Homo sapiens: one gene and its partners. The protein of the gene in region 1 interacts with the protein of each later gene in a biochemical or structural test. Each region holds a gene or a part of one and is shown in the gene's direction. Other genes may lie near its edges. The genes, in order: TMEM225B, GRIP2, MPP7, CARD11, MAST2, SIPA1L2 and HTRA3.

What was found.
Region 2: the proteins of TMEM225B (region 1) and GRIP2 interact in a test that uses a peptide from one of them, tested with the Homo sapiens proteins (one large-scale study listed by IntAct).
Region 3: the proteins of TMEM225B (region 1) and MPP7 interact in a test that uses a peptide from one of them, tested with the Homo sapiens proteins (one large-scale study listed by IntAct).
Region 4: the proteins of TMEM225B (region 1) and CARD11 interact in a test that uses a peptide from one of them, tested with the Homo sapiens proteins (one large-scale study listed by IntAct).
Region 5: the proteins of TMEM225B (region 1) and MAST2 interact in a test that uses a peptide from one of them, tested with the Homo sapiens proteins (one large-scale study listed by IntAct).
Region 6: the proteins of TMEM225B (region 1) and SIPA1L2 interact in a test that uses a peptide from one of them, tested with the Homo sapiens proteins (one large-scale study listed by IntAct).
Region 7: the proteins of TMEM225B (region 1) and HTRA3 interact in a test that uses a peptide from one of them, tested with the Homo sapiens proteins (one large-scale study listed by IntAct).

What each region holds. Positions count from the first base shown.
Region 1 is NC_000007.14:99,604,767-99,608,266, forward strand, and holds part of TMEM225B (transmembrane protein 225B), read left to right. Parts: intron 1-1,981; coding exon 1,982-2,128; intron 2,129-2,906; coding exon 2,907-3,044; intron 3,045-3,500.
Region 2 is NC_000003.12:14,519,843-14,523,342, reverse strand, and holds part of GRIP2 (glutamate receptor-interacting protein 2), read left to right. Parts: intron 1-267; coding exon 268-343; intron 344-1,555; coding exon 1,556-1,701; intron 1,702-1,720; exon of another isoform or gene 1,721-2,149; coding exon of another isoform or gene 2,150-2,198; intron 2,199-2,805; coding exon 2,806-2,953; intron 2,954-3,063; coding exon 3,064-3,233; intron 3,234-3,500.
Region 3 is NC_000010.11:28,052,779-28,055,064, reverse strand, and holds part of MPP7 (MAGUK p55 subfamily member 7), read left to right. Parts: intron 1-820; coding exon 821-1,000; 3' UTR 1,001-2,286. UniProt on the Homo sapiens protein: Acts as an important adapter that promotes epithelial cell polarity and tight junction formation via its interaction with DLG1. Involved in the assembly of protein complexes at sites of cell-cell contact.
Region 4 is NC_000007.14:2,911,368-2,914,867, reverse strand, and holds part of CARD11 (caspase recruitment domain-containing protein 11), read left to right. Parts: intron 1-1,401; coding exon 1,402-1,581; intron 1,582-2,571; coding exon 2,572-2,696; intron 2,697-3,500. UniProt on the Homo sapiens protein: Adapter protein that plays a key role in adaptive immune response by transducing the activation of NF-kappa-B downstream of T-cell receptor (TCR) and B-cell receptor (BCR) engagement.
Region 5 is NC_000001.11:46,016,612-46,020,111, forward strand, and holds part of MAST2 (microtubule-associated serine/threonine-protein kinase 2), read left to right. Parts: intron 1-2,984; coding exon 2,985-3,086; intron 3,087-3,500. UniProt on the Homo sapiens protein: Appears to link the dystrophin/utrophin network with microtubule filaments via the syntrophins. Phosphorylation of DMD or UTRN may modulate their affinities for associated proteins. Functions in a multi-protein complex in spermatid maturation.
Region 6 is NC_000001.11:232,508,134-232,511,633, reverse strand, and holds part of SIPA1L2 (signal-induced proliferation-associated 1-like protein 2), read left to right. Parts: intron 1-3,500.
Region 7 is NC_000004.12:8,276,254-8,279,753, forward strand, and holds part of HTRA3 (serine protease HTRA3 isoform 1 precursor), read left to right. Parts: intron 1-3,500. UniProt on the Homo sapiens protein: Serine protease that cleaves beta-casein/CSN2 as well as several extracellular matrix (ECM) proteoglycans such as decorin/DCN, biglycan/BGN and fibronectin/FN1.

The sequences.
Region 1 (3,500 bases):
GAGGATTGCTTGAGGCCAGGAGTTCAAGACCAGCCTGGGCAACATAGCCAAACCCTGTTGCTACAAAAATGAGAAAATTAGCTGAGCATGGTGGCATGTGCCTGTAGTCCCAGCTACTCAAAAGGCTGAGGTTGGAGGGCTCCTGCTTGAGCCCAGAAGTTCGAGGCTGCAGTGAGCTGTGATCATGCCACTGCATTCCAGCCTGGGAGTGAGAGTGAGGCCCTGTCTCAAAACAACAACAACAACAACAACAACAACAACAACAACAAAACACAAAAAATTAACCAGGCTTGGTTAACCCAAGGGTAGACTCTGGGATATCTGGGGCTTCAACAGCAACTTTGACTCCTTATCCCACTGCCAGCTGCCCACCTCTGCCAGCTCAGGAGGGTATGCAAACTCATTTTCACATGGGTCTGCATCATGCCAGCAGTCAGAGAACAAATCACCCTGTTATCAGACTCTGGCTCTGCTAATTTTGGTCTATTTCACTACTTCTGTTATTGTTGTTGCTTTTACAGATGGGGACTCACTCTGTTGCCCAGGCTGAAGTGCAGTGGCGTGATCATGGCTCACTGCAGCCTCCAACTCCTGAGTTCAAGCGATCCTCCCGCCTCAGCCTTCTGAGTAGTTGGGACTACCTGTGCTCACCATAGCTCCCAGCTAATTTTTTAATTTTATGTTTTGTAAAAAACAGGATCTCGCTTTGTCACCCAGGCTGGTGTGATCACAGCTCACTGCAGCCTCCAACTCTTGAGTTCAAGCGATCCTCCCACCTTAGCCTCCTGAGTAGTTGGGACTACAGGTGCGCACCACAGCTCCCAGCTAATTTTTTAATTTTAGGTTTTGTAAAAACAGGATCTCGCTCTGTTGCCCAGGCTGGTGTGATCATAGCTCACTGCAGCCTCCATCTCCTCAGCTCAAGTGATCCTCCTGCCTCAGCCTCCCAAGTAGCGGGGACTACAGGTGTGCCCCACCGTGCCCAACTTTTTAAAATTTCTTGTAGAGATGGGGTCTTACTATGTGGCCCAGGCTGGTCTCCAACTCCTGGCCTCAGGCAATCCTCCCACGTCAGCCTCCCAAAGTGTTGAGATTACAGGCGTGAACCATTGCACCCAGTCTCACTCCTATTAACTAGGAAAATTAAATAAAGATGTGGGGATTCCCTCAGCGTTCAGAACATTTTGACCTCACAAAGTTTTGATTTTCCACAGGCGAATTACTTCAGGGTAACCAATACAGGTGTGATTCTTCACATTTGCATGTGCAACAAATTTTATCACAAGAGTTTGATTTTGTGTTGCTTTTTAAAACCACCATTTTCCCCTAGTGGATGATACATGGTTTGGTACAACCAAATTCCCATAATAACATTTGTTAAGGCCAGGCACGGTGGCTCACGCCTGTCATCCCAGCGCGTTGAGAGGCCAAAATGGGAGGATCGCTGGAGCCCAGGAGGTTGAGGCTGCAGTGAGCTATGATGGTGCCACTGCACTCTAGCTTGGGCGACAGAGCAAGACCCTGTTTCTACAAAACATAAAAATAAAAAAATTAGCCAGGTGTGGTGGTACATGCCTGTGGTCCCAGCTACTCTGGAGGCTGAGGCAGGAGGATTGCTTGAGCCTGTGAAGTCGAAGTTACAGTGAGCTGAGATTGCACCACCACACTCCAGCTGGGGCGATAGAGGGAGACCCTGTTTCAAAAAAAGAAAAAATATGTTTATTAAGAACTGGTGATTTCAGTGTCTGACATTGTCAATTTAATTTTTTTTCCTATATTTCTATGCCATTGGGAATCAAATTGTGGGGCCAAAGCATTCTTGGGGCCAAAGTGGCATGGTCACAACCTTGGTCCCAAGGCCATGCTTTGGGATCTAAGGGTGGTGGAGGCTCCGGGGGCCAGCCCTGCCCAGGCTCTGAGGGACTCTGACCTTTCCGGGTCAGGGTTCCCAGCTTCAGCCCCACTTCTCCCTCCCCTGCAGTTTACATCATCCTCGGCCGGGTTTTCCTGCTCTCTGCAGTTTTCTTGGCTTTCGTCACCACCTTCATCATGATGCCCTTTGCATCCGAGTTCTTCCCGAGGACCTGGAAGCAAAACTTTGTGTTAGCCTGCATCAGCTTCTTCACAGGTGTGGAACAGCTAGGTGATCCCTGACCTTCGCTAGGGCCTGGGGAGGAGTCCAGAGAAAGAGGGGTGCTCAGTCTCTGTGATGTCAAAAGAGGCATAATTTTTCTTTTTAGGGACAGGGTCTCACTCTGTTACCCAGGCTGGAGTGCAGTGGTGCTATCATAGCTCACTGCAGCCTTAACCTCCCAGGCTAAAGTGATCCTCCCACCTCAGCCTCCCAAGTAGATGGGACTCTAGGCATGTGCCACCATTCCTGGCTAATTTAAACATTTTTTTTTTTGGTAGAGATGGGGATCTCGCTATGTTGCCCAGGCTGGCCTTGAACTCCTGGTGTCAAGCGGTCCTCCTGCCTCAGCCTCCCAATTGCTGAGATTACAGGCATGAACCACTGCACCTGGCCCCTTTTGACATTTATAAAGGGTGACCCAGGCTCCACCCTGAGAGGCTCCTAGGCAAATGGTGGAGGTAGAGCAGTAGGAAAATGGGATTGCATTTAATCCAAAGTGTTGCACCCTCTGCTAAGGTGCAGAGGTGAGCTAAGGGCAGATGCAGAGGGTGCTAGGAAAGGGAGTTCTGATGATGGTTCCCTGGAAGGTAAAGCACATGGGCTTTGAAGATGAGTCAGAAAGGAGGGAGGGACAGGCATCTGGGTAGGAGTTTTGTTTCAGAGAGGGGGCAAGGATGAAGGAGCCTCCAGGCAGGAGCCACAGGGGGTGAAGTTTGGAGGGAAGGCGGGTAGCATGGGAGGAGACCGAGGGTGTCTCCCTGTGACCCTCCAGGGGCCTGTGCCTTCCTGGCTTTGGTGCTGCATGCCCTGGAGATCAAGGCTCTGAGGATGAAGCTCGGCCCCCTGCAGTTCTCCGTGCTGTGGCCTTACTACGTGCTGGGCTTCGGCATCTTTCTGTTCATAGTGGCTGGTGAGTGTCCAGGGAACAGTGCCCTGCTTCTTGTCCTCGGTCTGGATTTAGGAACCTGTCTTGTGGAGGCCCTCCCTTTGGATTCTCTAGAATTGCACTGTTCCAAACCGCAGCTGCCAGTTAGACGTGGCTATTTAACTTTCGTTAATTAAAATAGTTATTGGCCAGATGTGGTGGTTCACACCTGTAATTCCAGTGCTTCGGGAGGCCGAGATGGGTGGATCACTTGAGGCCAGGAGTTTGAGACCAGCCTGGCCAACATGGTGAAACCCCATCTCTACTAAAAATACAAAAATTAGCTGGGCGTGATGGCACATGTCTGCAATCCCAGCTACTCGGGAGGTTGAGGCAGGAGAATCGCTTGAACCCAGGAGGCAGAGGTTGCAGTGAGCCGAGATCACATCACTGCACTCCAGCCTGGGTGACAGAGCAAAACTCCATCTCTAAAATAAAATA
Region 2 (3,500 bases), on another chromosome or scaffold:
GATCAGGGAAAAGGGGAAATAAGGTGAGGTCACAGAAGGGAGGCAAGCCATTTAACAGAGAGAAGACTTTGGTCATGTTACCCACCCCTTGCACCATCTCTTGGGAGGGCGAATTTATTGTTGGTGTCTCATAAGAGGGTCCATGGATAGCAAGGACAAGGTCCTCAAACAGGTTTTATTGAAGGAGCCTGCTCAGGGGCTGTGTGGGAGCCTCTGGATGGGAAGGGGTGGGTGGATGATTCCTGCTTCTTGTCAAATCCTGTCCAGGAGGTGCCCATGAAGATGGGCACAAGTCCCGCCCGCTTGTCCTGACCTACGTGCGGCCCGGTGGCCCTGCCGACAGGTGAGCCGAGGCAGAAGAAATCCACACACTGCACTGACCTGCCCCAACTCCCCTGCGAAGAAGGTGGAGTGGGGTCACCATGCCCCTTCCCCAGATGAAGAGATCGAGGCCCTGAGGGAACACTCCCTGCCCGGTGTCATTCAGGGAGTTGTTGATGGAACCGGGATGTAACCCCAAATGAGGGAAACCTCGAGCCCTTTCTTCCCCAACATACTGCTGTCTCAGGGGTTGGGGTGTTTGGAGAGGGGCAGCCTTGGTGTCGTTCTTCCCTTTCCTGCTCCTTGGTTTTCCCGTCTGTGGAATGGTCCCTAAGAGTTGCTATGAGAGATTTGGGGGCACGCTGATTGGCCACTGCTGTAGCCGTCTGTGACTCAGTCTCCTGGGTCCTGGCTGATCGACCCAGCTCGGCCCCGCCTGGGCCCAGCCCAGAAGGGCCAGGAGGAGAGAATGTGGGGAAAGAACATGTCCAGTTCCCAGCCCCTGATCCCTCGGCCTCCCCAGTGGGAGATTCCTGGCCATTTTAAGAGAAGCCTGGAACGGCCTTGTCAGAAATCTAAATCTGTCCTTGGGACAGGGCCCTGTGATGAGCTATTCATAGAACCCCCGAGAATAGCTTTGGCCACCTGTTGGGAGAGGCGTTCCAGGCTGGGGATGCGACCCAAACCGAGGTGAACCCTGCTGGGGCCCCTCCCCTGGCCCCTGTTGAGTTCTTTCCCAGGCGCGGGTTGTCATCAGGCCAGAATCACCGCTGAGAAACCAGGGTGAGGGTGGAGCAATGGGAAGGGACCAGGACGGCTCAGAGCAGCCCCCAATGCCGTGTGGCATGGGCACAGCTTGCACCCTCTCTGGGCCCTGGTGCTGTCCTTTGTCCCTGAGGCAGGAGTTGGGGGTGACGCTTGAAGAGCACCCCCAGCTCAGACATTTCAGGGTTCTGCACTGAGTCTGTGAATTACTGCACACCCAGAGGAGTGGCAGGCGGCAGAGCCACCCCATCCTGTCTTCATCCCCCCCTTGCTTTATGCAGCTCCCCACTCCTGGAGTGGCTCATTCCTTCACTCACTCATGCGCCCCTTCACCCGTCCCCTCCTCCCCTTCCTCCCCCACCCATTCCCTGCTTCTTCATCCTCCATGTCCCGCTTCCCAGCGCCCTCCCAGACAGGCTGTGCCCAGTGCTGCTGCCGGGCCAGGCTGGTGACTGGCCCTTCCCTACAGGGAGGGCTCCCTGAAGGTGGGCGACAGGCTGCTCAGTGTCGATGGAATCCCGCTGCACGGGGCCAGCCATGCCACCGCCCTGGCCACCCTGCGGCAGTGCAGCCACGAGGCACTCTTTCAGGTGGAGTATGATGTGGCCACCCCTGGTGAGTTGGGGGCCTGAGTGTGTGGGTTGGGGCAGGAGGAGGCCTGGGATGGGGGGAGGTGGCAGTGGCCATGGATCTTTACCACTGCAAAGGCTGCATGACCTTATGACCTTGGGCCAGTCACAGCTTCTCTGGGCAGTAAATAGTATGTGCTAGGCATTGTTTGATGTGCTGGGGATCCAGCCTAGAACAACAGAATTGAGGTGTCTGTTCTCATGGAGCTGGCATTCTGGTGGAGAGAGGACAGTATCCAGAATAGATAAGATATGGTGTATGTCAGTTGGCAATAAGTGCTATGGAAAAAAGAAAAGAGGCAGGGGAGAGAGATGGGACAGGCTGGGGGATGCTCTCTCACTAGGGGAGTGAGGGAATGAGCGAGGCATGGAATGTCCAGGGACAGCATTCCAGGAGGGCGGAAGAGTAAGTGCAAAGGCCCTGAGGCAGGAGCATGGCCAGCATGGTTGGTCACAGTGAGGAGGCTGCCGTGGTTGGCACAGGTGAGTGAAAGGAGGTAAGGGCAGAGCAGGGTGAGGTGGAAGCCGGGAGGCCATAGGAAGCGGCAGCAGCTGTCCAAGCGAGAGCTAAGGGACTGAACCAGGCTGGTGGCTAAGGAGGGGAGAAGGCACGGGATTCAGGAAATATGATGACGGTCCAGCTGGCCTGATCTGCTGAGATTTAGACATGGGTGGGCGAGGGCAGGAGCTAAGGGTGCGGCCAAAGTTTTAATTTCCAGCCACTGGGTGTGTTAATGGAGGTGCCATTTCCTGAGATGGGGATGGGTTGTAGTGAACTTTACAGTTTAGTGCTGGTATACCACAGGCTCTTCATAAACTCAAGCAAATTCATTTCACCCAGCAAAGCCCTGGGATCACAGCCCCTCAGACCTGAGCTCCTGCCCCTCCTCCACTGCTATCTTATCTGTCAAATTGATATAACATTTGGTAGAAGATAAAAAAAGAAAGAAAAGGAATAAAAAATTATGTTAATCAAATGGGTATAACAGTTTCTTCCAGGCAGCAAGGATTAAATCAGGATAGCAGGGTGAGGCTGGGGAGGAAAGTGCTCGGTATTTGCATTTCAAACTTTTTTTCTCCGTCATGCCAGACACGGTGGCTAATGCTTCGGGACCCTTGATGGTGGAAATAGTCAAGACGCCAGGGTCTGCCCTGGGGATCTCGCTCACCACCACCTCCCTCCGGAACAAGTCAGTCATTACCATCGACCGCATCAAGCCAGCCAGCGTGGTGGACAGGTAAGGCACACCCTGGGTGCTGCCACCATGGAGGTGTGTGCAGGGGAGAGGCGGCCCAGAGCTTTGTCTGGCCTGGACCAGCCTCCGCCTTCACTCCCCTGCCTGGCCAGGAGCGGAGCCCTGCACCCTGGAGACCACATCCTGTCCATCGATGGCACCAGCATGGAACACTGCTCGCTGCTTGAGGCCACCAAGCTCCTGGCCAGCATTTCAGAGAAGGTGCGGCTGGAGATCCTGCCTGTGCCCCAGAGTCAGCGGCCACTGAGGCCCTCAGAGGCAGGTGGGTCCCCTCAGTAGATCTCAGGGCCCAAACCTGGGCAGTCATGAGGCCTGAGAGGCCTGGGACCAGAGCCCTGGGCAGGCTGGGAGGAGCAGGCTAAAATGTACTAGGACAAATCCTCATTTGCCCAGGGAAGCTCAAATTATTAAGAGCAGCAACTGAGGGTGGGAAGGTGGGGCAGAGAAACAACTTGAGGGTTTGAATTGAGTCTGCTGGCATAGATGCCCCAAAGCTGGTTTCATCACTGGTTGCATTAATAGGAGTATA
Region 3 (2,286 bases), on another chromosome or scaffold:
AACTAAAATACTTCCTGGCTTTAAAAATGTGAGACACGAAGGCTCCTGAAACACTTTTAATGAGACATCGAAGGAACGTGGTAATCAGCCGGGCGTGGTGGCTCATGCCTGTAATCCCAGCACTTTGGGAGGCCGAGGCAGGTGGGGATCACTTGAGGTCAGGAGTTCCAGACCAGCCTGGTGAACATGGAGAAAATCCATCTGTACTAAAAATACAAAAATTAGCCAGGTGTGGCGGCACGCTCCTGTAATTCCAGCTACTCGGGAGGCTGAGGCAGGAGAATTGCTAGGACCCCGGAGGCAGAGGTTGCGGTGAGCCAGGATTGCACCACTGCACCCCAACCTGGGTGACAGAGTGAGACTCTATCTCAAAACAAAAAACAAAAAACATGGTAATCATCCTTTTACAAATTTGTCCAACTCTGAAAAAGGAGTTTATATTATAAATTCCTTCCTATGAATAAGCATAAATAATGCAGCCAAAACATCAGAGTAAACAATTCTTTTCTCCAATAGCTATTTTAATACTGACATTTCCCCATAATGATGACTAGTGACTCATTATCCTGCAATTCAGTTAAGGCAGGAGTTTTGACTCTTGCCAGAGTAGTTTTTTGTTACAAGCAAATCATAGAAATAGTATTAGAAATTATGGCTTCTGAAGCACTTGTGGTTAAAGAGGATGACTTTTATTTCTGGCTGAGGGGAAAGACTGAACACAGAACAGCATTAGGTAAACCAATTGTAGAATGTTTGCATTGATATGAAGTGAGGTAATGGCCTGGTTAACCAATTATTTTTTTAATACTTCCTTTTGTAGGAAGAAGATTTTCAAGAAATGATTAAATCTGCACAGATAATGGAAAGTCAATATGGTCATCTTTTTGACAAAATTATAATAAATGATGACCTCACTGTGGCATTCAATGAGCTCAAAACAACTTTTGACAAATTAGAGACAGAGACCCATTGGGTGCCAGTGAGCTGGTTACATTCATAACTAAGAGAAATTTCCATAATTGTCTTTTTCTATAGAGTGCATGATGAAATCAATTACAGTTTTGGTAGTAGGGTTTTTAAATCTATATCACTGTCATAGATGTACAATCTTGGTTCAAGTTGAATGCTGGTTTTGTTTGTATCTTTTTACAGCCTTATTTCAAACGCCATGTGTTAGTATAAGATCCGAAATCAAAATATGCACAGTACTGTATTCTAAGCAAAACCTCAAACCTTCTCGTTGTCTTCAATACCGCTCTATCTCCAAGATGAGGCTGAAATTTTCAGAGAGACTTAGCTAGAGGCTTAGTATGTATGGGAGTTCAGCGCTTCTGCTGGTCTCAGGTGTGGCTGCTGCTGTCGAGTTTGAATGTTAGCTGTTGAAGGTATCAATTCAGCAGCCATGAGCAGCTCCAGACAGACAGGTGAGCTCTGCTGTTTCTGGGTGGATCATCACAGATTTAGCCGGGCAGGCAGTAAGGTGTCCTCTTACTATTCAAAAAGTGTAGACTTTCTTACATATTCGCAATACGTTCACAGTGTGTGCATTTTAAAATAATTCTTAAAGGAGTAACTGAAATTTTACCTTGAGTGAATGGCCTTCATAATATAGCTTGAGAAGTCCTTTTGAGTACCTGTCAGTGACTCAACAACATTTAATAAGGGAAAGTAGACTTTTAACAGTTATTATATATGTAACGAAAAGCCTTTCCTTTGGGATTAATATAAGTAAGAATGGTAGCCTTGTGGCAAGAAATGATTACAAAGGATATTTTTATTTGTAATTCCTCAGAAGACAATTTATGAAGTCACCCAAAATGTTATTTTAGCTGGTTTTGGATTTTTCCAATAAATTAGAAGAAGGATTTCTATTCTAAAACATGTAAAACCTGTTTTACATATTACTGATACAATTAAAGATTATTTTTCATCTATGTGCAATAGATCACCCCTCTTTAAATTGCTCTAAGATTTATTTTAGAAAACTTTTCATGTGATGTTATTTCTTTGTCATCAAAATGCTTGTTAACACTGTCCAGACACCATCCTAACCTTGCCATTGTTAAAGAAGTTTAGGAAAGACTCTTATATTGTAAATATTTAGATGGGTTCTCTCACTTTTCTTTGATACTACTGATTTTCAGCAAGTGAATTATATAATTCAAAATGCTAGAAATGTCTATCCGTTCTATAAGAGAGCATATCCTGCCGTTCTTGCATGCAGTGAAGCCCTGCCCGTCGAAAATCATTGCATCTGTGACTTTCAAAGTGGAAAAAAAAATGTTA
Region 4 (3,500 bases), about 97 Mb from region 1:
ACTAAAAATACAAAAAGTTAGCCGGGCGCGGTGGCGGGCGCCTGTAGTCCCAGCTACACTGGAGGCTGAGGCGGAAGAATGGCGTGAACCTGGGAGGTGGAGCTTGCAGTGAGCCGAGATCCCGCCACTGCACTCCAGCCTGGGTGACAGAGCGAGACTCCGTCTCAGAAAAAAAAATAAAATAAAATAAATAAATAAATATATATATATATAACTATAAAATATATAAAAACATTAAAATAAAAACATAAAGCATTAAAAATAAATCTTAAAATATGTAAATAGCTAGGCATGGTGTCACGTGCCTATGGTCCCAGCCACTTGGGAGGCTGAGGTGGGAGGATCACTTGAGCAGGAGTTTGAGGCTGCAGTGAACCAAGATAACATCACTGCAGTCACTCTGGCCTGGGCCATACAGCAAGACTCCTAGCTCTAAAAATAAAAATAAAAGACAAAAAGAAATTAAAACGGTGAGGGAGCCTGGCCTTGGCTGTGAGGACCATGCTGCCTCGGGGTGACATCCCGCCAAGCTCACCCAATAACGACGCTCTCGTGTGGTTGCTTCGCTCCCGGGTACCCGTGTTAATTGGGGCTGTTTGCTGTGAAGTGTTCGTTTTATTGATTTCTCTACCCACTGAGTGCCACTTGCCATTTATCAACCCGGCGAGGGGCCTCCCGGTCCACCGTCCCCCACCCCGCTGGCCCTGGCTGGCCCTGCTCAGGGAAAGGGAAGCCACACAGCCCTGGCTGGATCTCAAAGGAGGCCTTGGGGCGGCTTCCCGGGCTGGCCCTTTGGACGTTGGAGTGGCCAGGCCAGGGTACAAGAAAAGGCACAAGGGACAAGGGACAGGCTGCCCGTTTCTGGGAGCTGTTTCCTCGGGCTGCCTGGGGGTGGCTTCATCAGAACCCCGGGCTTCTGTGTGGCTCTGCCACTCCAGCCACAGAGGGACTGAGAAAGCAGAACTGAGGCCAAGTCGTCCCTCCCAGTGCTCCTGGGAGACACCCAAGGCCTTGGCCGCTGGTCCTGGTGTCTCGTGGGTGCCTGCCGGCACTTGCTTTCCTTGCCCTCGCCCTCCCCTCCGCTGGGCTGTACCCAGTCCCTACCCTTCCTCCAAGAAGCCCTCCTTGATCGTCTGACAAGGCAAACTTTCCCTCCAGAGCTCAGCCAAGGTTCCTGCATTTGTCACACACTCTGCCTGCCCCCCACCACACCTCCCCTCCCTGGCACACAAGCCCCAAGCAGTGCCAGCCCGAGGTGACCTCAGACACTGGATGCCCGGGGCAGCAGCCAGGCCTTCACACTGACGGTGGCTTCCAGGACCCAGCCCAGGGGCCCCGTCCTCCGTGGAAGGTCTTCGGAGCCCCAGGGGTCTGACCGCCACCCTCTCCTGCCCCTGCCAGAGCTGGACCCTGAGAGCGAGCTGGGCAAGAACCTCAGCCTCATCCCCTACAGCCTGGTACGCGCCTTCTACTGCGAGCGCCGCCGGCCCGTGCTCTTCACACCCACCGTGCTGGCCAAGACGCTGGTGCAGAGGCTGCTCAACTCGGGAGGTGCCATGGAGTTCACCATCTGCAAGTCAGGTGAGCGGCGAGCCACGGCCACCTGGGGAGCCCCGCGGGAGCCATGAACCAGGACGACTTCCCCTCTTCTCTTCCCTCCTCCCCTCTTCTCTTCCCTCCTCCCCTCTTCTCTTCCCTCTTTCCTCCTCTTCCCTCTTTCCTTTCCTTCCTCCTCCCTTCTCCCTCTTCTCTTCTCCCTCCTCCAACTTCTCACTCCTCCCCTCCCCCTCCTCACTTCCCTCCTCCCCTTTCCTCCCCTCCTTTTCTTCTTCCTCATCCTCCCCTCCCTCCTCCCTCTTCTTCCCTCCTCCTCCTCCCCATCACCCCTCCTCCCCCTGGATAGGTGGATGGATGGATGGAAGGATGGCTGAATGGATGATGGGTGACTGGGTGGGTGGACAGATTGATAGATAAATGGGTGGGTGGATGGATGGATGGAAGGATGGGTGGGTGGATGGGTGAGTGGGTGGATGGATTGGTGGATGGATGGATGGATGGATGGATGGATGGATGGATGGATGGATAGGTGGGTGGATGGATGGATGAGTGGATGGATGGATGGATGGATGGATGGATGGATGGATGGATAAGGGGATGGGTGGATGGGTGGATAGGTAGGTGGACAGATGGGTGGGTGGGTGAGGGGTCGGTAGATGGGTGGGTGGATGGATGGGTAGGTGGGTGGGTGGGTGGAACAGGAGATTTATTTAGACTGGTGATCAGCCTTGCACCACGGTGCCTGAGCTGCTTTGTCCAGTGAAAGGTATTGCTGAGGTGCCAAGCACCTGCTCTATGGGCTGCCATGGGGAGTATGGAGAAGGTTAACCTTAGCCCTGCCCTCAAGGAGCTTCACAGTCTAGTCGAGGGGAGACGAGATTCATTTAAACATGGCTGGAAGGGGATCGGACATCGAGTTCTGTAGAGCCCAGAAGGTGGCAGGCAGGGCCTGAGTGGGATGGTCAACCCAAGGCCACCTCGTGCTGCCCTCAGGACTGGCCCCTCTCTCTGCAGATATCGTCACAAGAGATGAGTTCCTCAGAAGGCAGAAGACGGAGACCATCATCTACTCCCGAGAGAAGAACCCCAACGCGTTCGAATGCATCGCCCCTGCCAACATTGAAGCTGTGGCCGCCAAGGTGAGGCGGGGACTGGGAGGTTGGATGGGGCCAGGACCCTCCGTGATGATCCTCATGAGGCCACCTGGGCCAGGGACAAGGGTGGGATGAAGAGTTGTTTTCACCTCCCCGTGGCCAGACCTCTCCTTTTCCCCTTGTCCCAGCAGCTGCCCCGTGTTAACTCCCTCTCTGCACCCTTGTTCCCTGGGCTCTGAAGTGAGTTTTTATTTTGGAGCTTTCTATTTGTGTTGGCTTCCTGGAGCTGGTGTGTGTTCGCATTATTTAGGAGTGTGTGTGTCTGGTTGTGATAACAAGGGCCAGAGATAGAGAACGAGCTCATCAGGGCGAGAGACAGGATGAACATGAAGGTGACAGGTATTGCATTCACCAAACGAGGGGAAAACGGGGCATCACAAGGGTTATTGGCAACGATGCAAAAAGGTTGTCTGTGTGCAATGTGGAGTCTTTGGAGCCAGACAATGTGACCTAAGCGTTGAGCTCTTCCTCGTCCCAGCACTGGATGAAGAAAAGGCTCTCTGTCCGCGTCACTGGAGGGCTCCCCCAGCTGCCGGGGGCTGGCTCCGTGGTGGACGCTGACCTTGGGGATGGCAAGAGCAGATGGTGGTGTTTTTGTTTTTTTTAAGTCTGGGCCACAGCAGTTTAGGAAATTCTGATAGCTGGCGTGGATAGAAAGTGAGCAGACAGGGTTGGAGCTGAGATTGTTTTTAGCTGAAAAGAAGAAGCCTTCCAGCAGATCTGTGCTGTAGAAATGTGGGCCATGGTCCTATTGGTGGGGAATGGGGAGCAGTGGCCCCGCAGGAGGCC
Region 5 (3,500 bases), on another chromosome or scaffold:
ACTTACAAGGGACGTGAAGGACCTCTTCAAGGAGAACTACAAACCACTGCTCAGTGAAATAGGATACAAACAAATGGAAGAGCATTCCATGCTCATGGGTAGGAAGAATCAATATCGTGAAAATGGCCATACTGCCCAAGGTAATTTTTATAGATTCAACACCATCCCCATCAAGCTACCAATGACTTTCTTCACAGAATTAGAAAAAACTACTTTAAAGTTCATATGGAACCAAAAAAGAGCCCGCATCGCCAAGTCAATCCTAAGCCAAAAGAACAAAGCTGGAGGCATCATGCTACCTGACTTCAAACTATACTACAAGGCTACAGTAACCAAAACAGCATGGTACTGGTACCAAAACAGAGATATAGATCAATGGAACAGAACAGAGCCCTCAGAAATAACGCTGCATATCTACAACTATCTGATCTTTGACAAACCTGAGAAAAATAAGCAATGGGGAAAGGATTCCCTATTTAATAAATGGTGCTGAGAAAACTGGCTAGCCATATGTAGAAAGCTGAAATTGGATCCCTTCCGTACACCTTATATAAAAATTAATTCAAGATGGATTAAAGACTTAAACGTTAGACCTAAAACCATAAAAACCCTAGAAGAAAACCTAGGCATTACCATTCAGGACATAGGCTTGGGCAAGGACTTCATGTCTAAAGCACCAAAAGCAATGGCAACAAAAGCCAAAATTGACAAATGGGATCTAATTAAACGAAAGAGCTGCTGCACAGCAAAAGAAACTACCATCAGAGGGAACAGGCAACCTACAAAATGGGAGAAAATTTTCGCAACCTACTCATCTGACAAAGGGCTAATATCCAGAATCTACAATGAACTCAAATTTACAAGAAAAAAACAACCCCATCAAAAAGTGGGCGAAGGACATGAGCAGACACTTCTCAAAAGAAGACATTTATGCAGCCAAAAAACACATGAAAAAATGCTCACCATCACTGGCCATCAGAGAAATGCAAATCAAAACCACAATGAGATACCATCTCACACCAGTTAGAATGGCAATCATTAAAAAGTCAGGAAACAACAGGTGCTGGAGAGGATGTGGAGAAATAGGAACACTTTTATACTGTTGGTGGGACTGTAAACTAGTTCAACCATTGTGGAAGTCAGTGGGGCGATTCCTCAGGGATCTAGAACTAGAAATACCATTTGACCCAGCCATCCCATTACTGGGTATATACCCAAAGGACTATAAATCATGCTGCTATAAAGACACATGCACACGTATGTTTATTGCGGCACTATTCACAATAGCATTTACTGTTTTTCTTTCCTTGTATCCTATTTACTACTCAATCTTCTGCCTTCCAGTTTCCCTTCCCACCAGTCTACCAAAACTGTTCAGGCAAAATTCACCAAGGAACTCACTGGCCAATTGCCAAATCCTGTGGCCACTTTCAGTTCCCATCTTCTGCCACCTCTCGGTGGAGCACAGTGAATACTTCCTAAACTTCCTTCCCCAGTTGTCAATTCACTGTTCTCACCACTCTTGCTGCCTCTTCACAAGTTCCTTTGCTGCCCACCTCTTCCTACTGGTGTGTCACAGGGCACCATCCGGCATGCCTGGTCTCCCCTTTCTCTTTCCTCCACTCTCTCTCTGATGTCTTGCCACCTGCTCCCATGTCTTCAGTTGTCATCTCTACGCTGAGGACTCCCACATGTGGCTGCCACTCTTACTGTTCTCCTGAGCTTCAGATCAGTGCACCCAGCTGCCTGCTGGACTCCTCCACTTTGACTTCCCTATATTGGTTCTTATTCTTTGGTTGCACGTAATAGAAACTGATTCAGAATAGTTTAAACAGTAAAGGGAAACATTATAAGAGTAAAAGGAGTAGGTCTTAGAGAATTGAAGCGAGGGATATAACCAGGCCTTAAGAAGGAACCAGAACTAGAAACCAGAAGCTCCAGGAAGCTCAGGAAGTCTTCATTCTTCCTTTTTCTGTATGCATCTTTTCCTCTATTTCCATGGTAGGTATGCATCTCTTTTCACAGTTCTTAAACGGTTCTGCCACACTGACGTTAACAGTTGTCTTTCTATCCTTTTTTAAATTCCTAGGAAAGTGATCCTCTCTGGTCAGCTATTAGAGGTGGGAGGGAAGGTACAGACACACAGTACAAATGTGGCTCCTAGAAACCAGAGCAGTTCTCAGGAAAAAAGAGAAAGGCCCATCGGCCAAGCAGATACCCAAGAGACTCTCATATAGGTGCCTGAAACTGCACGCCCAGAACTGAGCTTATCTTTTCTGCCTAGCTGTTCTTTCTCTAAAACCAAATGCAGTACATTCTTTACCTATCACCTAAATGGCTTCTTATAGTTACTATTTCACTTATTCATTGTAATTTTCCTAAAATTGAAGTTGTAGTTGCCTTCTGTCGTGCTTCTTTCACCCCTTATCTGCTTCTGTAGTAACCCACGTCTATCCCCTTGTCTGCATTCTTCTGCCTTGACCTATGCCTTTTTCATCTGAATTATTAGAGTTGCCTGCTAATGGGTTTTCCTGCATTTAGCCTTGCCCTCTTTAGTGTACTCTCTACACTGCAGCCAGAGTGATCCTTCTGAAGTACTTTCTGGTCATATGACTCCTCAGCTTTGAGGTCTTTCTACTCCTTACAGTCTAGGGTGGAAAGTGAACATCAGTGAAGGCACCATTGAGAGCTGCCCCTTGAGCTAGGGTCTGGAGGGTAAGTGAGGCTTGTTGGATGGAGGAGCAGGTACAGCTGTATGTCTGTGTGGCATTTCTTGGTGTCATGTAGTGTTCTAAAGCAGAAATGGTTCCCTATGAGCAACTCGCTCCCTCTCACAGCCAGCCAGCCTTCTCTGAGTTCCTTGCTTTGCGGAGCTCTCTATGCTACCGAATTGTTTCTCCCTGGAGTCAGCTCTGCCCTGTCTGGTCCTGCTTAGCCCAGCCACACTGGGCCAATAGATTAAGCAACGCTTCTTTTCTCTATAGGCTCATGAGCGCTCAGAGAGCTCAGAAGTGGCTTTTGTGATGCAGCTGGTGAAAAAGCTGATGATTATCATTGCCCGCCCAGCACGTCTCCTGGAATGCCTGGTGAGTGGACTCTAGGAAAGTCAGGTGGGCAGATTTAGAGGAGGACTATAGAGGAAGTATCCTGATGACAGCAAAACTGTGGTGGTAACCACTGCCATTTCTGTTGCTTAGGTCCTTATTTAAATATGATTTGCCACCATTGGGGGACTAAACAGGTTTTTGTGAGGACAAATGTATGGTCCTGAGGGGATGCGGCAGGGAGAATTATTAGTCTAGGCCACCCCCACATGAGCAGGGCTCACATCAGTGGGGGTCTTGGGGGTGAGAAGCGTCAGGAGCATAGCCCAGTTTAGTTTGTACAAGTTGAGTCCTTCATTTTATCTTCAGCAATACTTGACTGAGTACCTACTTCCTGCTAGACACTGGAGATACAGACATGAATAAAGCACAGTCTCTGATCTTGGGATGTTTCCT
Region 6 (3,500 bases), on another chromosome or scaffold:
CCACTTCAGTCCCTTATAACGTTAAACCACTGTGAAGCCTGTTTATTACTTTTTCTCATGGAGTATAGACTTAAAAGAATTTGTCTGCCAGATAAATTGTGATTATTAATAATTCCCCCTCCTGTTTTTGCATCAATCCAGACTTAGCATGTCTTTTGTAATCACATTATGACAACATGAATCAGAGAAATGATCTGATGCAATAAAGCTAAATAAACAGATATTTACACTGCATCTGGTCACTTAGTGTGAATTGTCTCTCTGTCCTCATACTGATGACATAATAGGACTGAAATAGTTTTGTCAACAGATCTTGGTCCCCTGTTGTGTCTCCTTTCCTCTCCTCCACCCTGAATTTCGGTCTTGGCTTCAGGTGTGCCTCAGTGTTAACACCATAGTTACTTCCTTCCAGCCAGTGGAATCAAAGAATCCTGGACCTGCTTTTTTGTCTCTGCTGTGAAAATAACTCATAACCCTCATGCCCGTGTTCATGCAGAGGTATCACATTATATCACACTGCTCAAGGATGCTCTCTAGGTGGAAGTTAGTTATTTTTGGAAAGGGAGATGGAGAGATAGGCTTCCTAATTAAGGTTATTTTTATTGATGAAGCCATGGCTGCCAATTCTTAATAAAATAAAGTCTGTTGGATTTATTATGCCCTGAAATCCCCAGGTAATTAGTCATTCTGGCTAGCTGAGTTTTGTAAATAGTTTGTGATTCAGACTTTGAAATACTAGAACATAAAATTATATATATGTTCATATTTATGCCAAAACTTAGTGCCAGCGTCTCATTCATATGCTGTTGCACATGTCTGAGTGTAAGTGGAATGAAAAACTGTTGTTTTGTGCACCCCGGTCACCACCATTTGATTCATTAATGTCCCCAGGGTCTGTTCCCCGAGATGATTTTAGGTTGCTAGATTCTGTTAGTTTTCTTGACTGCTACTTGTAGTTTTTCTCTTGAATTCTCAACTGTCACTTCTTGGTAGTTTTAAAGACTCCTCTGCAAGTGATTTATTTCCTCCACCTTTTCTGATGAGCTACTTAGTTTTTCAAGAGCATTGCAAATGACATCATCAAACTGCTTAGGTTTGAATGTGAAATAAATAAGCTCCAAAGAAGAATCTGAGTGTAGACACCCTGTCAGTGAATTGTGGGTGGATGTACGCTTATCGTTTGGCATTTTGGTGCTGTTGGGCACACTCTCTGGTTCTGAGCTTTGCAGTGGATTTATAAACGAGTCAGAAAGCAGAATTCTAGACTATAGTCACGCATCAGTTAACAACAGGGATATGGTCTGAGAAATGTGTTATTAGGCAATTTCGTCATTGCGTGAACATCATAGAGTATACTTACACAATCCTAGATATATATCTTTATTCATATATATATATATATTTTCATATTGAAAACCAAATGTCCCAGCACCATTACTGAATATCAGACATTTCCCCTTATTCATCTGCACTGCCAATATCAAGTGCCATGCATCAGATTTCTGTATATGCTCCATCATGATTTTATGGGACCACCGTCATGTATGTGGTCCATTGTTGACCGAAATATCCCTATGCGGTACATGACTGTGCTTTGCAAAGCCCACAAAATGAGGGAGTGGGGAGGCAATCCGTGAGGTCACTTTGTCTTCAGTGTTCTGTGATTCTGTGCTGTGGAAGGTGCTGTTGTGCCTGCAGATGGGCTCGGGCTGGGGAAGGAGCGGCCACCAGGAGCGAGAAGAAGGCCGAGCCCCGGCTGCTCTGTTCTCTCTCCAGCGCAGCTGTGAACTGTGTCCTGCCTCCTCCTATATTTAGCTCTTCCCCTGTGGTCCAGTGTGACTTCAAAGTGAAATTGGTTACAATGGCATCTGCTCCTGCTCTTGCTGGTCTCTTGTTGAGCCATTAAGGACTCCAGGCAGAGGCAGCAGCCCAGATTCTTAAGTGAAAAGTACAGTGAGGTGGAGGCCTCCTATGGTGTGGGAGTAGATTCCCATTCCCGCTTCAGCCACTGGACACAGTTGTGCAAGACCCTTCTGTCTGCAAACATCATGAGTTGGGTGAGCTTCATTGTATTTAAAAACAGAGGGCCTGGGCAGACTGGCACAGATAACGATGTTTTTGAGATAGCTTTTTTCTTTCCCTTTTTTGCTTTTCCCTTCTCTCAAGGATTTTCTCTTTGGAAACTGACTTTCAGGGATCTATCTTTCAATACTTTCCAGAGTGCTTTTATTTTGTTCTGTGCTTCAGGGTTCTGTGTAAAACTTCATTTTCAAGAGAATTAACTGGCTCCCAATCATGGCAAATGTTTAAAGTGCGATACTTTAATAATGTGATTTCTTCTTTATTGGGTAGTTAATGTGAAATGTCTGCTTTTGATGCTGAGGTGTATTTCTGTGACACATCATCACTGAAAGGCTGTTGAATAACTTTGTGAAAGGATTTCTGCAGGGGAGTGGCAGGACACAGGAAACTGTGTGACAACATCGCTTGCCCAGGCAAATCCATCTGTAGCTTTCAGTGAAATAGCTTTTCTTTTTTCTTGAAGACAGAGTCTCGCTCTGTTGCCCAGGCTGGCGTGCAGTGGCGCAATCTTGGCTCACTGCAACCTCTGCCTCCCGGGTTCAAGCAATTCTCCTGCCTCAGCCTCCCAAGTAGCTGGGATTACAGACATGTGCCACCACGCCCGGCTAATTTTTGTATTTTTAGTAGAGATGGGGTTTCGCCGTGTTGGCCAGGCTGGTCTCGAACGCCTGTCTTCAGGTGATCCACCCACCTCAGCCTCCCAGAGTGCTGGGATTACAGGCGTGAGCCACCGCACCCAGCCAAAACAGCTTTTTTAAAAGCAGTGAGGATAGTAGCAAGTAGAGTGAATGCCCAATAAGTCCCTTCCTTTCACGGGCGATAACCATGAAGACACATTGGTGCCGTTTGTCACATTACTGTTTCTCTGATGGGACTCATTGTGAATGTGCCATTTGCTGCTGCTTTGAGCTTTGCATTTGTGAAACAGGCTGTGACAAAGGGTCCCTTAGATAGGGATTCTAGTTGTGCTTGACCACGGTCAGTCATGTGAGCATCAGTGAGTCTGGTTTCCATTGTAGCAGAGCAGCAGGCTTTGCCTCCTTCTGGACCTGCTTGGCACTGCACACTGCCACCAACAGTGGGGCCAGTGCTGGAACTGTGTGGCAGAGCCCAGACACTGTGTGTTGACACGTGAGGTCTCCCCCGCTTGGTGACGAAATCCTTAACTTGTTAAGAAGTTGTGCACCTAGTGGGTTACTCAGGAGTTCTAAAACGGTTCTGTGCCCTACTTTATGCCACCCAGACCAGAATAGTTCTAGGAGGCAAAGTGAGTAATATTTGGGTAAAGAGAGGTTAAAACCAGATGGGAGGATGAAGCTGGGCCTCCGTGGTGACTCAGGAGTGAAGTGAAAAGTGGCTAAATCATTGTCTGAGCCTTCGGGAACGTTGTTTTGCTAGAGCCATTCTGCTGGCACAGG
Region 7 (3,500 bases), on another chromosome or scaffold:
TGCACCTCAGTTTCTTCATCTGTGAAATGGATAACAGTGGGACCCCCCTCACTGGTCACTGGGCAAATGAGATGATGGACTGAGTGTGCTTTGCACGGTGCCGGGCTCATAGAAGTTGATGTGAAGAAAGGATGGCAGGTGGACGCGTCTTACAGAAGTGGAGTTAGTGAGAGTGAGGGAGAGGGGTCGAGGAAGGGGAGGAGCTGGAAGGCGGTGTCTGTGGAGGTGCTGCCATGTGCTGGCCCTGCCGGAGGGAGTTTCATTGGCCCCGGTCAAGGCAGGGAGGGCTTCCTGTAAGAGGAGGGCCAGGGGCTGTCTTCCTTGCCTTCAGTGGCATGGAAGTGCCTGACCCATGGCACTGTGCACAAGGACCAGCCTTCTTGGTAAATCACAGGCAGGCTGGCGGCAGCACCTCCTCCTCCTCCCAGGGGCTGGCTGTGGCCCAGCTGGGTGTGGAGTTTCACAGCCAGAGGAGCCAGGCTGGCCCCACATTGAGCTCGGGTCTAGGTTGAGCTTTTCTGGGGCTGGACAGGTTGTCACATTTGCCAAGGGCCAGCACGGAGCAGGGGAAGCGCCCAGGTCAGGGCTTGCGGGGCCTGGCTGTGCACCTTGGGCAGGTCCCGTGGCCTCTCTAAGCCTTGTTTCCTTGCCTGTAAAATGGACTCAGTTCCTGTCTTGCAGAATTGCTGCAAGAATTCAATGAGATCACAAACTTCGGAGCCCAGCCTGACGTCCCATGCCCAAATCGGGTCCCGCCTGCGAGGTGTGGCCCGTGGAGGGGGAGGCAGCGGGTTCCTCTGGGCCTGGGCTGCAGCCCTCATCCCGCCTGCGTTCCACATGAACAGGTCTCTGGGCTTGAGGGTGGCAGATGGCAGCATCCACCCCACGGGGAGCCACAGCTGGACCTGAGGCTTGTGGGGGCACGGTTCACTTGGGGACATGGCTCGGTGGGGCAAAGTTCACTAGGGGACAGGCAAGTTTTCCAGAGGAGGAAAAGCAAAGGAAGCTGCCCTGGGAACTAGTTAGACCCAGGAGGCAGCCCCTTTAGTGGTGGGCGGGGCTGGGGGCTGTTGAGGGGGCCCCTGGAATGGCTCCTCTGTCTCTGAAGAGCATTCATTCGCTCCCTCATTTGCTTCCTGCCCACTGCAGCGGGCCAGGTCCAGCCCAGACGCAGGGGTGCAGGCCACAGGTACACTCCCAAGGGACTAGCTTTGGGAAGGGTACGAGGTGCTGTTGGGCCCAGAAGGAGAGGTGGATCACCACGCTTGCAAAGTCAGGGTAGGCTCCCCAGAGGAGGCGCTGCTGGCCTGGGCCCTGAGGAATGACAGGAAGGGCATATTCCCAGAGGAGGGAACCACATGTGCAAAGGCACAGTGACACTTAGGAGCCTGCACGCGCAGGAAGCAGAGCCGAGGTCCACAGGGGAGAGTGGCAGCACGTGAGGCTGCAGATGTCAATGGGACCAGGACACCCCAGGCCTTGAATGCCCTGCTTAGAGGTTGCCATCTGGTCTGTAGACCATGGTCACCGTTATGGACAGATGGGCACAGCCTGGGACCCATGGCTATCCACTCATGGCTCCTCCATCCCCAGCTCACAGCTGACCACTGGGTGGCAGAGGGGTCTGCTAATTGCAGAGGGCACTAAAAGAAGGGGCAGGGACCTTAGAGATGGAGGAACAGAACTGGGTGTCAGTCCCAGCTCTGCACATTATGTGCTAGAGGGACTGATGCATACAGTTGGGCAGGTTGTGCACTGCACAACTGCAGGGAAGCTGGCCACTCTGATATTTGTCAGTAAGGGCCTGGAGTTACGCAGTGTACAAACACAAGGTATCCCCACAGAGTATCTGGGCCTCAGTGTCGCCATCTGTTCCATGGCAGTTATGACTGTCCAGAGCCAGCACGTGGTCCTCTCTCAGGGTTGGCCACAGTCCCCCAGGACTCCTGGGAGTTCCATCAGGCAGGGCTGTTGGAGCTGGAGCCCTGGCACCCTACTTGTCTCCCCTGCCCTGTTGCGCCCCTTCCTCTCCTGGGATGTGACACCGGACACCTAGCCTCGGGCCTTGATTGCTTTGCTCTGTGTGAGGGTCTCCCTGACTGAAACTTCCAGGGCTTTAGATTCCAGTTTATTGAGGAAAAAAAAAAAAAAAAGGCTAACGGCTGAATCTGGTTGAGACTGACTGTTGACTTCAGAACTTTGGCTCGAGGATGGGGTGGGGGTGGAGGTTGTCAAAAACCCCCAAATAAACAGAGTCTGCTTCCCAGCCGTGGGGCCCACGGTTTTCCTGTGGAAAGAGGCAGTGGGAACCGCGTCCTCCCTTCCCCCTGATTCATGGCTGATTCATCTGCGTGTTGGGAGGAGGAGCTGGGGCACGGGGGCCCCTGCCCCCACCCCACCACCCACCGAGGTCCGCTTAAAGGGACAGGACCTGGTGGGGCCCTGCAGGGGTGCCCCAGGCTCTGGGGTTGCCTAGACCCTGAAATCCAGCAGACCTGGGCCAGCGCCAGGCCTGCCCTCCCTCAGTGATTGATCTTTGCCTCTAAGCCTCAGTCTCCTGGGCCATAAAATGGGCGAGTGCTGCTGCTTTTGTGAGGCTGCTTGGAGACTTGGTTAATCAGCTGACCCACATTCTTTCTTCAGGGTGCTCTTTGCAGACCTACTGTGTGCTGGCTCAGAGAGCATCAAGAAGGGCCCCCTTGAACTTCTCTCCCTTCTCTCTATCTTCCTCCCCTCCTCTCTCCGCCCCTCCTCCCCCTCCATCCCTTCCCTCTGAAATGTCTCAGCGGCTGTCTCACCCTGTGCTGGTTACCACTGGGGTGTGGAAGCGAACCAGATGGTCTCTGTCCCAAAGGAGCCTGGGGTGTGGGGTGGGCACGTGCGGGCTTCTCTTTGGAGACTCTGTGGGAAACAGGCCACCTCCCAGCCCAGCCCCACGGCCCTTCTGTCTCAGGCCTTGCTCTCCCTCCCTGTTTTATTTTCTCTTTGAAAAATGAAAAAAAGTCACTGTAACTTTACCCCAACCACAAATAACCACCATGTAGTAGAATTTTGATGTTTCCTGCAAGGCTTTTACTTAACGAATATTTCACAGAGGGTTTTAAAACAAATCATCCCCTATAAAATCGAGTGTCACCTATTTTAAGTGACCTCTGGGAGACCACACTGGGGAGAAAGTCCTTCCGGTGGAGGCCGCAGTGCTGTGCAGATCTTCAGGCTGCCGCGTCAGAGCTCAGGGGCCCAGCAGCCCAGGCGCTTGAGGGGGTCCAGGGGCTGGGCTTTGGCAAGCAGGGGGTGGACACGTTGGGGTCCAGAGAGCTTTCCGGCCCTGGGTGTTGGAGTGTCTGAGTCCAGGATGGAGACACACAGGAAGGCAGCCTTTTCTAATCACCTGTGGGAGGAGAGGTGCTGCCATTCCTCCTTCTGCTGTGTTCACACTGGGCCCAGGTCCCTGTGTGCCGTGGCTGCCTGCACAGGCAATGCGGGCTCAGCCTGTGGCT